Regions from separate parts of the Homo sapiens genome. Here region 2 is linked to region 1. Evidence: fine-mapped expression QTL. A gene starts in region 1. The other region holds a variant in brackets. All regions are shown on one strand. Distances are between the middles of the regions.

The links. PIP is the estimated chance that this variant, and not a neighbour inherited with it, causes the effect. A credible set is the group of variants that fine-mapping cannot tell apart.
Region 2: its variant is the best candidate, but not a certain one, in a credible set for the expression of ASPHD2 in whole blood (TOPMed, PIP 0.80).

The regions. Positions count from the first base shown.
Region 1 is chr22:26,426,996-26,432,314 of GRCh38, forward strand. ASPHD2 (aspartate beta-hydroxylase domain containing 2) reads left to right here and starts at 2,265. Exons shown (of 4, transcript NM_020437.5): 1 at 2,265-2,491. RefSeq lists silencers at 2,106-2,235, 2,356-2,415, 4,148-4,442.
Region 2 is chr22:26,400,608-26,405,979 of GRCh38, forward strand. No RefSeq gene overlaps it. Among named protein-coding and RNA genes, the nearest start is that of ASPHD2, 26 kb to the right of the region's middle. RefSeq lists an enhancer at 4,306-4,822. The variant T/A (reference allele first, on the strand shown) is at 3,277.

The sequences.
Region 1 (5,319 bases):
ATTCTTCCTCTTTTGGAGTTGAGAAAAGGAGAGAAATGACAGAGATGAAGAAGAGTCTAAGACATGGAAGAGGTGTATTCTGGGACATGGGAGAGGTGTACTCTGGGACATGGAAGAAGTGGGTTCTGGGACATGACAAACTGGGTTCTGGAACAGGGAGGAGGTGGATTTTAGGCTATCACAGTAGAGGCAGATTCTTAGGTCAGGGACCAGGTGGATTTTGGGACAGAGATGAGAGGTGGGTTCTGGGACATGGTGGAGGTGGGCTCTGGGACAGGGAGGAGGTACATTCTGGAACAGGGTGAAGGTGGCTTCTGGAACAGGGAGGAGGTGGGTACTGGGACAGGGTGGAGGTGGGTCTTGGAACAGGGAGGAGGTGAGTTCTGGAACAGGGTGGAAGTGAGTTCTGGAACAGAGAGGGGGTGGGTCCTGGAACAGGGAGGAGGTGGGTTCTGGCACAGGGTGGAGGTGGGTCCTGGGACAGGGAGGAGGTGGGTCCTGGGACAGGGAGGAGGTGAGTTCTGGAACAGGGTGGAGGTGAGTTCTGGAACAGAGAGGGGGTGGGTCCTGGAACAGGGAGGAGGTGGGTTCTGGCACAGGGTGGAGGTGGGTCCTGGGACAGGGAGGAGGTGGGTCCTGGGACAGGGAGGAGGTGAGTTCTGGAACAGGGTGGAGGTGAGTTCTGGAACAGAGAGGGGGTGGGTCCTGGAACAGGGAGGAGGTGGGTTCTGGCACAGGGTGGAGGTGGGTCCTGGGACAGGGAGGAGGTGGGTCCTGGGACAGGGAGGAAGTGCGTTCTGGAAGAGGGAGGAGGTGCGTTCTGGAAGAGGGAGGAGGTGGGTTCTGGAAGAGGGAGGAGGTGGGTTCTAGAAGAGAGAGGAGGTGGGTTCTGTAGCAGGAAGGAGGTAGGTTCTGGCACAGGGTGAAGGTGGGTCCTGGGACAGGGAGTAGGTGGGTTCTGGAACAGGAAGGAGGTATGTTCTGGAACAGGGTGAAGGTGGCTTCTGGAATAGGGAGGAGGTGGGCTCTGGGACAGGGTGGAGGTGGGTCCTGGGACAGGGAGGAGGTGGGTCCTGGGACAGGGTGGAAGTGGGTCCTGGGACAGAAAGAAGGTAGGTTCTGGAAGAGGGAGGAGGTGGGCTCTGGAAGAGGGAGGAGGTGGGTTCTGGAAGAGGGAGGAGGTGGGTTCTGTAACAGGAAGGAGGTGAGTTCTGGCACAGGGTGGAGGTGGGTCCTGGGACAGGGAGGGAGGTGGGTTCTGGAACAGGAAGGAGGTACGTTCTGGAACAGGGTGAAGGTGGCTTCTGGAATAGGGATGAGAAATGGATTCTGGGACAGACATGAGGTGGCTTCTGGGCCATGTTAGAGATAAATTCTGGGACACAAGAGAGGTGGGTCTGGGACAGAGACAGATGGATTGTGGGCGGGCCATCCTACTCTATGCTCCCAGAACCCACCCATGCAGTTTCCCTGGCGCCCCTAACACATCCCGTAGCCACTGTTAGTCTCCCCCAGGTCTTAGCTCAAACGTCACCTCCTCCAAGCAGCCTCCTTGGGGCCTCCATTCGCAGCTCATCAGTCCCCTGGTCAGACAACCGTCCTGCCTGTACTTCCCCTCCTAAACCCTACCCGGGGGTGAGGGTCCCCTCCCGCTAGACGGTGGCTCACTGAGGGCAGGGCGGGCCTGAGCGCTCACCGCGCACGCTCAGCGCAGCTGGCAGGGACGGGGACCCAGGCTGGCCCATCATTACTGTACTGAGCGAATGAGTTTTCCATGAGACTAAGAATCTGGTTTGATTTGCGGTTCCATTCCAAGTGCCTGAGGGCCTCAGAAGTCCGTGTTGAGTCCATCAATAAAGGAAAGAAGGCGTTAGGGCGAGAGGAAGTGAGGTGGGGGGGAAGTGAAAGAGAATGAAAAGGAGGAAATGGAGACGAGGGCGACTCAGAGAGGAACAGAGAGACAGAGGGAGGGAGAACTGAGAAAGACACAGAGCGAAAAACGAAAGAGCGAAGGAAGCGACGCGAGCCTTTCTTAATGAATGACTGCACGCCCGTCGCCGCCTGCGCGCAACCTCGGGCTGGGCGGGCGCTGCGTCTCGGGGCGCACTGCCAGGACCCTCCGGAGCGGCGGCGGGCGCGGCCTCGGGTCGCCTCCCGCACTGCGAGCGCAGGTGCCGGGTGCAGGGGGGTCCCCGGCCCCGCCCCGCAGGCCCCGCCCCCCCGTACCCCCTCCCCCGGCGGCCCAGCGCGCGCGGCATTGTGGGAGTTGTGGTCTTCGCGGCCCCGCGGAGCGCAGCGCGGCGTCGGCACCGGCAGGGGCACCGGCGCGGCTTAGGCTCGGGCTCGGGCTCCGGCTCGGGCTCCCGCGGCGTGGGCTGGGCAGCAGCCAGGCGGCGGCTCCGCGGCGCCGGGCAGGGGCCGTCCGCGGGTCCGCGCCCTCGGGCGGCGGCGTCTCCTGGGTCCCGGCAGCCGTCCGCGCGCCCGGGCGCAGGTAAGCTTCGTCTCCGGGGGCTGCCGGGGCGGGAGGGCGGCGCGGCTGGGCCGACCCCAGGACAGGGGTTGGAGGCGGGAGCCCGGCAGCTGCAGGCCCACGGCCCTCCCTTACCGGCGCCGCCGCCGCCGCCGCCCCCGCCGAGGATGCTCCGGGACCCGGGCGCCCGCATCCCGGCCCGGCCGAGGCCAGTGCTCGTACGTGCTAAGCGCCGCCGCCTCGGAGCCGGGCATCACCCTCCCTAGACCTCCTCCTACTCCTCTTCCCTGCCCCATCGTGGTCCCTTCCTCCATCTCCCTTCTCCCCTGTGACCCCTCTTTCCTCACCTCCTGTCCCCTCCCCCAGCCCTCAGCATCACCCACTTCCCATATTTCACGTGGTGACCCTCCTCCCCTGTCCCACGAATTATGAGGCGCCATAAACCTCCTTCCACAATCTTGAGCTGATCGTCCACTTTTCCGGGCAACACTCACCTTTCCATCGTCCCATCCCCCTCCTCCCCTGACCTCCTGGTGGTCACCATCTGTGCTAACCCATCTTCAGCCCTCCCCTCTTTCCCACTCTCCAGGGCAGGTGGGTGCTGAGAAGCTGGCCAAGAGAGGGAAGGTCCCCAGGTCTGCACCGGGAAGGGCTGGCCCCACGGCATCTCTCTGGCTCCTGAGTGGAGAGGGTGACAGGCATCACACACCTTGCCCAGTGCTGCTCACTGGGGGGCTTCCAGGGTGACTTGGCCTCATCCTGAGGGTGAGCAGACACTCTTTGGCATTAGGCAGCCTCTGGGAATGGACATCTGAACTAGGCTGACCAGGTCAGGCCTGACACCGGCTCTCCCAGGTGTTCATGGTGTGAGAAGTTGTCTTGGATTGGACTTGCTCTCCAACTGGCCATGGATTTGGACTCAATTCCCCAGAGCCAACTGAGCTGGAAGATCTGGGGTTGCTTATTATTAAAGTGCAGAGCTGCAATGAGATGTCCCCATCCCTGATGAGGACAGAAATAACACAGATGACAATGAACAGATGTGCGAAGGAAGCTGGAAGCTACTGTGGTCACTGGGCAAGGAGCTGTCGGGGGAGAGAGTCTCTCCTCTCCCCACTGGGTAGATGGGGAGTTGTCACTAGGTAGCTGTGAGGATCAAATGTTTGAAGCAGTGCTTAATAAACTGCCAGTCACTCTGCAAATGTGTTTCTTTTATTGTCATAGTTCAGCTTTGAGCTTGTAAATCCACCTCCGGGTGCAGGGGCCTGTTGGCATATTTTGGCTAAAAGTGACTGACAGGTATGAAAAGTCCTAACTTGAGCTCTCAGTGCTATTTATGATCTCGGGAGGAGGGTCTGAAGCTGGGGTTCAGAATCTTTTACATTCTTTTGCTTACAGCTCAGCCTTAGGGAGGGCTCATGGCTGGCTTAGTACAGAAGGAGGCTTTCCTGAGAAGAGTACAGGGCTGGGGTGTCCAGTGGAGAGGTTTCTCCATCATCCACCCTGTTTTCTGTGTCTGCATTTTGCTTGACTTAAGTGATCAGCAGGGCTGATGGGAACTAACACTTTACAGGTGCTTGTTAAATTATCACCGTCTCACTCTTAGAACATTTAAGAAAAAAACCTTTCCTCCTGACAGACTCAGTTGAAAAGTTCCAGTAGGGGTTTAGCTCAGTGATGGGGGAAATCCTTTTAGTAAAAGTGCTTGGTGTCACATAGATGATTGTTTCACACTGAATTTCAGGAACTCTGAGGTTCTGTTTGGGAGATGGCTTGCAAACAAAACATCTTTCATCTGGATTTTCTTTCCTTTTCCTAAAGAGTAACAGCTGCCAGTTTATGGTCTAACAAGGAGAGAAACAGGGGGCTGAAGGGGTTTCTTAACCTCCAGTGAGTCATAGCCTTTTCCTCTTCTCCTGAATCTGAGAAGAAATTGAGAATGTGTGGGAAAGAAAAAAAAAAAAAAACAAAAGAAAACAAAAAACAACTTAGCTTCTAACCTCCCCACTCTTGTATTTTTCCTAGAAACATAAAAAATTTCCATGAATATTCAGCATGTGTGTTTTTGACTTACTAAACATTATAGTCAAGTGATTATTCAACCGAAACTGGGAAAAAGCAAGTAGGCAGTTAATGAGCACCTAAGGTTTCCCTTTCATTTTTAGCTTAGCAAGTCTGGGGACAAAAAAGCCACTCAATACATGAGGCAACAAGAGTGTCCAGGATTTACCTTTAACTGTTGGAATTCCGAGTCTTGCTATACCTTTCTCTCGTGCCCCACCTTTGGAACGCTGGCTACTCATTATGGGATGCCACCCATCCTAGCCGTCGCCTGCATATATTGGGTGCTCATTATGACGTGGTCGTAAGTGCTGTCCATCCGCCATCATTCATCTTCATCCAGTGAGATGAACACGAACCCCATTTCATGGATAAAGAAACTGAGGCAGCCAGGCGCAGTGGCTCACGCCTGTAATCCCAACACTTTGGGAGGCTGAGGTGGACGGATCACCTGAGATTGGGATTTCAAGACCAGCCTGACCAACATGGAAAAACCCCATCTCTACTAAAAATACAAAATTAGCTGGGTGTGATGGCGCATGCCTGTAATCCCAGCTACTCAGGAGGCTGAGATAGGAGAATCACTTGAACCTGGAAGGTGGAGGTTGTGGTGAGCCAAGATTGCACCATTGCACCCCAGCCTGGGCGATAAGAGTGAAACTCCGTCTCAAAAGAAAAGAAACAGGCTTAGGAAAAGCGATCTGCCCAAGGTTGGGATGAATCCTCAACTGGGCCCATCTCTAATCTGGCTTCTCTCTGCTACGATGCTGCAAGAATTTTCAGGCCAA
Region 2 (5,372 bases), 26 kb before region 1:
GAAACCCCATCTCTACTAAAAATACAAAAATTAGCCAGGCATGGTGGTCCATGGCTTTAGTCCCAGCTACTCTGCTCAGGAGGCTGAGGCAGGAGAATCACTTGAACCCGGGAGGAGGAGGTTGCAGTGAGCCGAGATTGCACCACCTGGGCGACAGAAAGAGACTATGTCTCAATTAAAAAAAAAAAAAACAGACAGAAAGAAAAAGGTCACATGCGATTATAGGATTCAAGCAACACACAGGCCTAGTAAGCAAGCTAATAACCTTTCTCAACCCCTGTCGTCCCACATCTTTGAAACATCAATGTTTCCAGTACTCTTTGGTATAGTTCCTTCCACATCATTCTCTTTGCTCATAAGGATACATATAAGAGACTTTGTTTTCCTCAAAAGAAGTTATTATGTGCTTTGCTTCCCCCATGCCCCCGCCCTTGATATATCTATATCTTTATGTGTATCTCTCTCAACATAGATTCAGGGAGAAAGAACATATCTCGAATGGACATCTCTCCAGGTCATTACACAGAGCTCTAAAGCTGAGTTATGGGCCAGAGTGTGCTGCATCCTAATTTATTCCACGGATCCCACAGAAATGCTCAACACCTTGGGTCAGGATTTTTATACAAGGTTGTTTATCACAGCACAGTTTGTTCCATCGAAAGCTAAAAAGACTATGAAGGACAATCAGCAGGAGGGTGTGCTTTTTTGTCTCGAGAGGCTTTACTAGTGGCTCTAGAAGTCATCTTTTCTTATCAGTCTGGACCTGACCTTCAATACTCCAGGATCCCATCTGGAGGAAGATGGCTTCCACCTGGCCCTCCTCTCCAGTGACTATCTGAAGCCTCGCTCTGCTCTGCTTCCCCAGTTTCCCTCCCCATAGTCCTTCCTTCCTTTCTTTCAACTATTTTCTACTGGAGAATTTTCTGAGAGGTTATATAATCAAAAGGATTTCATCAAATGATGAAAGAGCAACCATACACCATGGCCAAACAATTGCATGTCTCTCTAGAAAGACCCTGGTACATTTTGGCCTAGAACTCAACATTTTCCAAAAGAAGGGTCCCTTTTTCACTTCAGGGACTCCATATGTCGGTTATAATGGAAATCCAGGCCCTCTTCTCATGGTAACAGTTCCTCAATTTTTCCTTTGAGGAAAGAGAGAGGGGCTCTGGGGCTACAGGCTTAAGTGGAACTGATCCTCCTTCCTGACACCATGAGGACCTAACCACAGCCTGGGCAATCAAAGATTCCACGGTAGCTCAGAGAAAGTCACGTGGTCCAAACTGGCCAATGGGAAACCGACTGGCTCTTTTGGCAGGAGCTCCCAGGCCTCTAGGAGGTGTGCCTGGATCCATTGGCAGCCATTTTATTGCCGCGCAGGGCAATCATGACTGCAAATGAAAACAAGAGAAAGTAAAACAGAGCCTAGAAAGAGAAAAAGACAGATCCCTGGTGATGTTGTTGGAGTTTCTAGATTCAGCTGGACTGAAAGTGAGACCCACCCACCTCTCACCTTTGTAATCATATGAACCAAACATTCTCTTTGGGATGAAGCCAGTTTGAGTTGGGTTTCTGTCCCTTGAAATTAAAAGAGGTCTTGGTAATAGAACACTATTTGTATTTCAAGTAATTAAGAAAATACATCCTATCGGCCAGGCGTTGTGGCCCCTACCTGTAATCCCAGCACTTTGGAAAGCTAAGGCAGGAGGATCCCTTGAGTTTGGGAGTTTGAGACCAGCCTGGGCAACATAGGGAGACCCCATCTGTATACATAATTTAAAAATTAGCCAAGTGTGGTGGTGTGCACCTGTGGTCTCAGCTGCTTGGGAGGCTGAGGCAGGAGGATCTCCCTAGCCCAGGAGGTCAAGCCTGCAGTGGGCCATGATCATGCCACTGCACTCCAGCCTGGGCCACAGAGCAAGATCTTGTCTCAAAAAAAAAAAAAAAAAGAAAGAAAGAAAATACATCCTGTGTCCCCACCCCACCCCAACTTCACACATACAGAGAGCTATTAAGAATTCAGTCATACTTGCAAAACACCTATACTTCATCTGCAAAGTTATCATATTGATGTAATGTACAAACAGTTTTCCTACTTCTAAAAATAAGTCTGAGATCCGTAAGGATTCAAGACCCACAGGTAAGAATCAAATACTCTATGTTGGTGGCTCATAAGGCATCTTGAACTGCCAGAGAGATATGCCTGGAAGCGGACCTCAGCTAAAGAGGGATGGGGTTGAGGGGTAAATACCCAGCTCCCCCTTTCCTTGGGAGGGACACCTTTGAGGCATGTTCTGCGCCGTCCCCAGAGTTCCCAGGGAGATCGGGGCCTCGGTTGTCCACAGCGCTCAGTAACATGCCTTTTATTGGCTTTCTTCCTTTCCAAGCCTCACTTCTCTGTTCCTTTTCTGGTGCATTCTGGTATCACCTCCAAATGAACCACTTCTAGAGGAATCCATGACTCAGGGTCGGCTTCCAGAGAACCAAACCAGGAAAGCTCTATCCTAACTCAGGAGACTCCCAACAAACCAGAGTCCACCCACATCCTCAGACTAAAAATCCCTGTTCTAAAGGACTCCACACACCAAGCAAGCGGTGCTCACTGCAAAGCCACCTGATATGGTGAGTTAGTGCCTTGTTAAAAAAAGAAACAAATTCCCAAGACCCTGTAGCTCCTTATACCTGATATTCTAATTGTCATCAGTTTGTGAATTTTTGAACTCTTCTAATCCTCGTGTTCCTAGGACACAGGCATGTTGTGCTTTTAGGGGCATGATTTACTGTTCCTTGCCAATTCTGCCCATCCCTCCACTGTGTTAAAAACCCTATGTTTATGTGGAACAGCCTTCTTACTGTTTTAATTCAGCTCCCCGTGATCTCCCTGCCCACAAGAAGAATTCCTGAAGCAGATGCTCCTTCCCTACCCGCTGAGCCTCACTTTCTGTCTCCTGTCCCATTTAGAAGAGCAATAGTGAGCTGGGAGCAGTGGCTCACGCCTGTAATCCCAGCACTTTGGGAGGCCGAGGCAGGTGGATCACCTGAGGTCAGGAGTTTGAGACCAGCCTGGCCAACATGGCAAAAACCCATCTCCACCAAAAATACAAAAAGTTAGCCGAGCGTGGTGGTGGGCGCCTGTAATCCCAGCTATGCGGGAGGCTGAGGCAGGAGAATTACTTTAGCCCAGGAGGCAGAGGTTGCAGTGAGCCAAAATCATACCATTGCACTCCAGCGTGAATGACAAAGTGAGACTCTGTGTCAAAAAAACAAAAAAAAAGA[T/A]AAAGGAGGAGGAGGAGGAGAGGAGAAAGAAGAGGAGGAAGAAAGAAAGCAGAAGAAGGAGGAGGAGGAGGAAGGAGGAAGGAGGAAGGGTAATAGTGATTGGCCTAATGGCACAGTGAGAGATCTAGGCAGGCAGACCTGGCTCTATCACTTAATACCCCTGGGACTTTGGCCAGAGGTGTCAGTTTCCCAATCTGTAAAATGGATCTATAATAATAATAACTACTCTATATAGTTACTAGTGAGAACAAAGTGAGATAATACAGGTAAAATGTTTAGCACGGTGCCTGGCACATGGAAAATGCTTGAGAAATGGAGGCCTTTGTTGCCACTCAAGTCTAGCAGTCTTAAATATTTGTCGAATGAGTGAATGAAGTCAAGAGAAGGCCAAGCTGTGGGCAGTGCCTTTGGCTAAATCCCAGAGGACCTGAGGTCCTGCCTGTCTTAGCCACTCTCTCCTGATTCTCTGTCTCTTTGTCTTTCTGTCTCTGTCTCTTCTAGTTCCATCCCTGCCTCTCTCTGTGTGTTTTTCTTCTCCTATTCTCTTTTTTTATGGTCTATTTCTCTCTCTCTCTCTGTGTGTGTGTGTGTGTGTGTGTGTGTGTGTGTGTGTGTGTTTCTATGTGGCTCTGTTTTTTTCTCTCTGTCTCTTTTTCTCACTTTCTGTTTCTCTCCTGGTCTCTGTCTGTATCCCACCCCCGCCACATCACCCCCACACCAGCCTCCTCTTGCAGGGACCAAGTTGTCAGGCTGCTCACGTCGTGGGCTGCCTTGAAACCTGCCACGCACATTCTCATAGTTAGATTTCTCCTGCGTCCACCTCTACTTAAAAAAAAAAATATTTTGACATTTGAGATTCAAATAAAAAGACCATAGAATGGCCTCAGGGAATAGCAGTGCCTGGAAAAAACAAACCTCATTCCTAAACTTTGTGATTATTTTTTATTTTCTTTCTGTCTCTGCTGCCTGAAGCAGAATAAACTTTGTGTTTTTGAAAGACACATAGCACGAGGGTATGGGAACCCCTGCAAGCCCTCAGTGGGAGTTGCCCCACAACCAATCCTCCAAGTGAAGTGCTCCCCACTACCCCAGTGCTCACCATGAACACCAAAGTGAGTTGAGCTGGTAACAATTTTGTTTTCTGGAATCTGTCAACATGCGCAGCAGTTGCTTCCTAATCCTGCTGAGCCATTAGCCACAAGTTCCTCTTTTGTTACAATTTAGCTGCGAGCTTCAGAGAGTGACAAGAGTCAGGAGAAGGGAGAGCAGGGTAAGGCTGTGAAAAGATCCTGAAGAGGTGTTAAGAGCTCAGCAGTTGAGCCAGACATCCCTGGGTTCAAGCCTGGCCAGAACACTTAAGGGCTGGCTAACCTTGGGCAGACTGACATCTAACAAGTGTTCGGTAATTGCAATGTGTTTGGCATTGTGATAAGCTCCGTAAAGATGATCTCATTTCATCTTCCCTGCAATCCTGTAAATGACAAACTGGCTGCAGCTCAGAGAGGCTGGCTAACTCATCCAATGTTACGCAGCTTTGAATGTCTACTCTTTGAACAGTCCAATTCCTCGGCCCAATACCTGGAGACTTTGAGTGGGGGGAGTGCTGGTTCCTGGTACTCCCCACCTCACCTCTGAGTGCCCTAACCACCATGGTCACTCCCAGTGGAATTTTCACCCATCATACAGCTGCCTCTGGAAGCTGTGTAACTGCCTTTAGTGCTGGCCCCTCACTGGAGTGGAGTCCATGCAGTCCTACAAATTCAAAGAACCAGAACACCCTGGTTGTCAAGGCAGATGGGTAAGTGAGTGCAGGGCATTTTCAGCAAGCCTTTGGGGGTGGGGTCTGGGGGTCTGTTTCTTGAGCATCCAGAGCTCCAGCCAGTAGCTTCCTAGTGCATGACTGTGGGCCACTGAAGAAGGGGCAGGAAGGTGTGGAGGGTTAACCAGGAAGCTGGGCATGGGCCTGTAGCCTGTAGTCCCAGCTACTTGGGAAGCTGAAGTGGGAGAATCACTTGAGGCTAGGAATGTGAGGGTGAGTGTTCCATGATTAAGTCTGTGAATAGCCACTGCACTCTAGCCTAGGCAACACAGAGACC